Regions from separate parts of the Homo sapiens genome. Here region 1 is linked to region 2. A link means that fine-mapping ties the variant in region 2 to the expression of a gene that starts in the linked region. Tissue or cell type: esophagus mucosa. Region 2 holds a variant in brackets; the other region holds the start of a gene. All regions are shown on one strand. Distances are between the middles of the regions.

Evidence for each region.
Region 1: it holds the start of HACD1, and the variant in region 2 is fine-mapped to the expression of HACD1 in esophagus mucosa (GTEx, PIP above 0.99).

What each region holds. Positions count from the first base shown.
Region 1 is chr10:17,616,173-17,619,083 of GRCh38, reverse strand. It overlaps HACD1 (3-hydroxyacyl-CoA dehydratase 1), which reads left to right and starts at 1,710. Exons shown (of 7, transcript NM_014241.4): 1 at 1,710-2,001. The coding sequence starts at 1,745. RefSeq lists a silencer at 1,510-2,169.
Region 2 is chr10:17,636,763-17,639,673 of GRCh38, reverse strand. No RefSeq gene overlaps it. Among named protein-coding and RNA genes, the nearest start is that of STAM-DT, 5.7 kb to the left of the region's middle. The variant T/C (reference allele first, on the strand shown) is at 1,596.

The DNA of each region.
Region 1 (2,911 bases), 21 kb after region 2:
TTTCTTCCCTTTATTTTATTTTTATTCTTTTTCGAAAAGAAGTCTCGCTCTGTCACCCAGGCTGGAGTGCAATGGGGCGATCTCAAATCACTGCAACCTGTGCCTCCTGGGTTCAAGCGATTCTCCTGCCTCAACTCCTGAGTAGCTGGGATTACAGGCGCCCGCCACCATGCCCCGCTAATTTTTGTATTTTTAGTAGAGACGGGGTTTCACCATGTTAGTCAGGCTGGCCTCAAACTCCTGACCTCAAGTGATCTGCCTACCTCGGCCTCCCAAAGTGCTAGGATTACAGGGGTGAGCCACCACACCCAGCCTTCCTTTCCTTTTTTTTTTATTTTTTTGAGACAGAGTCTCACTCTGTCGTCCAGGCTGGAGTGCAACGGGCGATCTCTGCTCACGATTTTTAAAAATTATTTCCACTAAGGAAACTGAGGCATGGATAGGTTACGTTGTCCAAGTTCACACAGCTAATAAAATGGGAGGATTCAGGAATTTGGGGGTTGTATTTCAGTAGGTGCAAGGAATTTCAAAAGGTAATGTCATCAGTTAAGGCAGGAACCGGCCACACTTCTTTAGTGATTCTTCAGTTACTTTAGGCCATCTGGATGTATACGTGCAGGTCACAGGGGATATAATGGCTTAGCTTGGGCTCAGAGGCCTGACACTTGGTAAATAGACACACACACAGACACACAGACACACAGACACACACACACACACACACACACGCTCCGGTAAAATTCACACAAGTGAGGCCGGGTGCGGTGGCTCACGCCTGTAATCCCAGCACTTTGGGAAGCCAAGGCGGGTGGATCACTTGAGGCCAGGAGTTCGGGACCAGCCTGGCAAACGTGGTGAAACCGTCTCTACTAAAAATAACAAAAATTAGCCGGGCGTGGTGGTGCATGACTGTAGTTCCAGCTACTCGGGAGGCTGAGGCAGGAGAATCTCTTGAATCAGGGAGGCGGAGGTTGCAGTGAGCCGAGATCACAACACTGCACTCCAGACTGTAAAAAAAAAAAAAAATAAGAAATGAAAAAGGAAAAAAAAATCACTCAAGTGGGACGGTCTTCTCACTGTTGGAAGACCTGTTGGACTCGCTAGTAAACGGGAAACAGGGCGAAATAGGCGTTTCTTCCCCAGAAGCTCTTAAGAATGAATGAATGTTTGGCCCAGCGCTGTGGCTCAGGCTTGTAATCACAGAACTTTGGAAGGCAGAGGTGGGAAGATTGCTTGAGCTCACGAAATTGCAGTGAGCTATGTTCACGTCACTGCCCTCCAGCCTAGGAGACAGACTGAGACCGCATCTCTAAAAAGAAAAGAATGAGTGGCGGGAAGATCCCGCTCCCTGCCTGCGTATTGAGAAACTGCCTTACAAAAGGCCAGGCAGGGCAGAGCCACGCCAAGTTCAGGTGCGTTCCCTGTGTCCCCACTAAATGCACTCGCAGGGTGCGCATCGCCAGGGCGCAAGGCGTCTGGGCGTCTCTCTATGAAGAGGCGCCCGCAGCTAGCGAGGCGGGTGCACTTTCCTCGGGAGCGGAAACTACAGCGCCGCCTGGAAAGCGTGCCGGGGCTCGCGGGTCCTGGATCCCCAGTGCCAGGGCCAGGCGTTCTGGCCCCCGAGTGGCGCGCGCTCCCAAGGGGCGGGGCGGGGCGGGGGCGTGACGGGCGGTGGCCGGGGGCGTCCGCTCCTCCCCCTCGCGGTCGGTAGAGCTGGCTGCGCCGAGCCCCCTGCGCGCTGCACATGGGGCGCCTGACGGAAGCGGCGGCAGCGGGCAGCGGCTCTCGGGCTGCAGGCTGGGCAGGGTCCCCTCCCACGCTCCTGCCGCTGTCTCCCACGTCCCCCAGGTGCGCGGCCACCATGGCGTCCAGCGACGAGGACGGCACCAACGGCGGCGCCTCGGAGGCCGGCGAGGACCGGGAGGCTCCCGGCGAGCGGAGGCGCCTGGGGGTCTTGGCCACCGCCTGGCTCACCTTCTACGACATCGCCATGACCGCGGGGTACGCGCGCCGCGGGGCACCCTCGGGCCCTCCCCGCGCCGCGGTCCGCGGAGGTTCCGGGTTCAGGGGGCGCGGGCCGGGGTGTAAGGGGCGCGGGGGGTGCGGGCAGCGGCCGTGGGGGAAGGGAGCTGTCGCCGCGGCCACCGCCGGGGTTGAATGGAGCGGGCGGGGGGGCCGGGCCCTGCGCGCCTGGCATTGCCTAATACGGTGCACGGCGGGGCGCTGGCCGGAGGTTAAGTATAGAACCGGGCAGGAATGCGGTGCCGGCCCGCGGGGGAGGTGGCTGCTGCCCCGGCGCCGCTGCCTTCGCTGCTGTTGAAGGAGCGCCCAGCCCTGGCCACTCGATGGTCTCGGGAGCGCAGAGCTTCATGCTGCGATCGCTGGGCAGAGTTTTCGCCCCTGTTAATTTCACCGCGACTTTTTTTTTTTTTTTTTTTTAAAGCACAGCACGTCCTAGAGCTTGTCACTTGGGACGATTTTGAAATAACCACCCCACTTATCCCAGCGTGGAGCTCCTGCCCAGCATCTTTATGGCCTCAGGCTCCGTGGCTGATAAGCTGGACCTTGATTTTTGGCTTTGAGTATGACTTTGCAAGTTAAGGTTACACAATGACTGTCGCTCTTCGCAGAGCTCTCAAAGTGACTTTTGTGTCAACTGCTTCTCAAAACCTGTTGGGAAAATGCTTTTCCATTTCTCAATTGCACTGCCTTTTAAAAAAGTTATTTTCCCATTATCACTCGAAGTATTAACTTATGTAAACGCGAGGAAAAGTTTACTATTTTCTTTTTTTCTTTTTATTATTTATTTATTTATTTTGAGACGGAGTCTCGCTCGGTCTTGGCTGGAGTGCAGTGGCGGGATCTCGGCTCACTACAAGCTCCGCCTCCCGGGTTCATGCCTTTCTTCTGC
Region 2 (2,911 bases):
CAGCACTGTGGGAGGCCGAGGGGGGCAGATCACCTGAGGTCGGGAGTTCAAAACCAGCCTGACCAACATGGAGAAACCCTGTCTCTACTAAAAATACAAAATTAGCTGGGCATGGTGGCGCATACCTGTAATCTCAGCTACTCAGGAGGCTGAGGCAGGAGAATCGCTTGAACACGGGAGGTGGAGGTTGCAGTGAGCCGAGATCACACCATTGCCCTCCAGCCTGGGCAACAAGAGCGAAACTCCATCTCAAAAAAAAAAAAAAAAAAAATTAAGCACTGCAAATTGCAAATTTAGCATCTTAGGGCAACAACAATCATTTCTTCTGCTTACAAACAGAAATTTGGTTAGAACTTAGCCAGGACCACACAGTCTCAGCGGTGGTAGCTCAGAGGCTGGAATCACTACAGCCAGGGCTACAGTCATTTCAAAGTTTGCTCAGTTATATGTCTGGCAGTTGGTCCTAGCAGTTGACTGAGTCATTGGGGTTACCAACCAGAACAACTACATGGGAGCTCCTATGTATCTGCTTGGTTCCTCTCAGTGTGTTGGATGGGCATACAACTGAGTATTGCAAGAGCCGGGAAACTGCCAGTTTCTTAAGACCTGGGCTAGGAAATAAGCACAGCATCATTTCAGTCATGTTCTTTTGGACAGGCAGTCACAGCATCTACACTTAAGGGAAGAGGAAATAAAATTTACCTCTTGGTGGAAAGAGTGTCAAAGAATTTTGGGGTCATACTTAAAAGCTACCACAATATTGTAACTTTTTAATTGTATAAGCATTAGTCTGAATCATTTTTCCCTGTTTCTGGGCTCTTCACGGTAGATATTCCATAAATGTTTGTTAAATGCAGTAAATAAATAAAATTTATTATGATTAAAATGGCAAACCTCCATTACTGGCCATGAGAGAGTAACAGGATCCAGACTTACCTTTTTACAATAAGCAAATAAGACACTGGACAAAATATATGGAATGATTTCAAACATGGGAAAACAGGCAGCACTGGACTATGATTTCAAGAAGAAAGGAAGCATATGCAGTGAGCCCAATGATTACAATAGCGTTCTGCCTGGAATCAGTTTCTAGGCTGTGGCACAGGGAGGTGGAGCCCCAAAAGAACCCAAAGGTGTTATTGCATTGAAGAGACAAAAATCAAAGTTTGAGGAGGCCAAGAGACTAGAATTTGGAGGGCAATATATTAGGAGGGTGCTATGCAGGGAAGAGCTTCAGAAATCTGCACAAGGGGCCGGGTGTGGTGGCTCACGCCTGTAATCCCAGCACTTTGGGAGGCTGAGGCGGGTGGATTGCCTGAGGTCAGGAGTTGGAGACCAGCCTGGCCAACATAGTGAAACCCCGTCTCTACTAAAAATGAAATAAATTAGCTGGGCGTGGTCGCAGGTGCCTGTCATCCCAGCTACTTGGGAGGCTGAGGCAGGAGAATTGCTTGAACCCGGGAGGCAGAGGTTTAGTGAGCCAAGATCACGCCATTGCACTCCAGCCTAAGCAACAAGAGCGAAACTCCATTTCAAAAAAAAGAAAGAAGTCTGCACAAGTGTTCCCCTTGCGGCTTTGAATGCTAATCTAGTCA[T/C]GGGTACGGTAAAGCTCTACAAGTTTGGGCAAAGCACTTTTAGGCAAAGACCTACTACCAGGGAAGCAAAATCTGAAAAATCCCAAGAGTTCATACAAGTCAGGGAATCATTTCAGTTCTCAAAGCCAAAAGGAAGAAAATTACTTGAATACACTGAGTGTTAAGTAAATACCCCAAGAGGCTAATGTCTTAGTAGTGGGGAATGGCCTGACATGGAAGTCTACCTCTGCCTTTGCTCTAAAAAAGCTTAAAGAGTAAACTCTTGAAAAGTAAGCTGGGCAACATAAATCAGGGGCAGAACAAAGTATGAAACTCTTAACAGGAATACATATATTTACGGCACTCAAAAATATAAAATTCTTCAATGGCCAGACTCCAATAAAATATTACTGAACACATAAAGGAGTAGGAAAACGTGGCTAATAACCAGTAGGGCAATCAGTCCATGGAAACAGACCCGGAAATTAAAGAGATGATTGAATTAACATAAGAATGTTTAAAGAGTTCTAACTGTGATCAACATGCTCAAGGGCTTACAAAAAGATGAATATAATGGGGAGAGAAATAAAACGCATCAAAAAAGAAGCAAATGGCAATTCTAGAGATTAAAATTACACTATCTGACATAAAACTTCCACTAGATAGAATTAAGGGGAGTTTAGCCGGGCGCGGTGGCTCACGTCTGTAATCCCAACACTTTGGGAGGCCGAGGCGGGTGGATCACGAGGTCAGGAGATCGAGACCATCCTGGCTAACATGGTGAAACCCCATCTCTACTAAAAATAAAAATAAAAATAATTAGCCGGGTGCGGTGGCGGGCACCTGTAGTCCCAGCTACTCAGGAGGCTGAGGCACGAGAATGGCGTGAACCTGGGAGACGGAGCTTGCAGTGAGCCGAGATCGTGCCACTGCACTCCAGCCTGGGCGACAGAGCAAGACTCCATCTCAAAAAAAATAAAAATAAAAATCATTTTAAAAAAAGAATTAATGGGAGTTTAGACACTACAGTAGAAAAAATAAGTGAACCTGAAGACACAGCAACGGAAACTATACAAAATTGAAGCACATAGAAGAGAAAGACTGAAAAATAAAAAATCTCAATGACCTATAGAAAAATATAAAGCAGTATAGCATATGGGTAATTGGAGTTCCATAGAAAGTAATAAAGAGGGGTGGGGAGGGCCGGGTGCGGTGGCTCACGCCTGTAATCCCAGCACTTTGGGAGGCCGAGGCGAGCGGATCACCTGAGGTTGGGAGTTCAATACCAGCCTGACCAACATGGAGAAACCTCGTCTCTACTAAAAATACAAAATTAG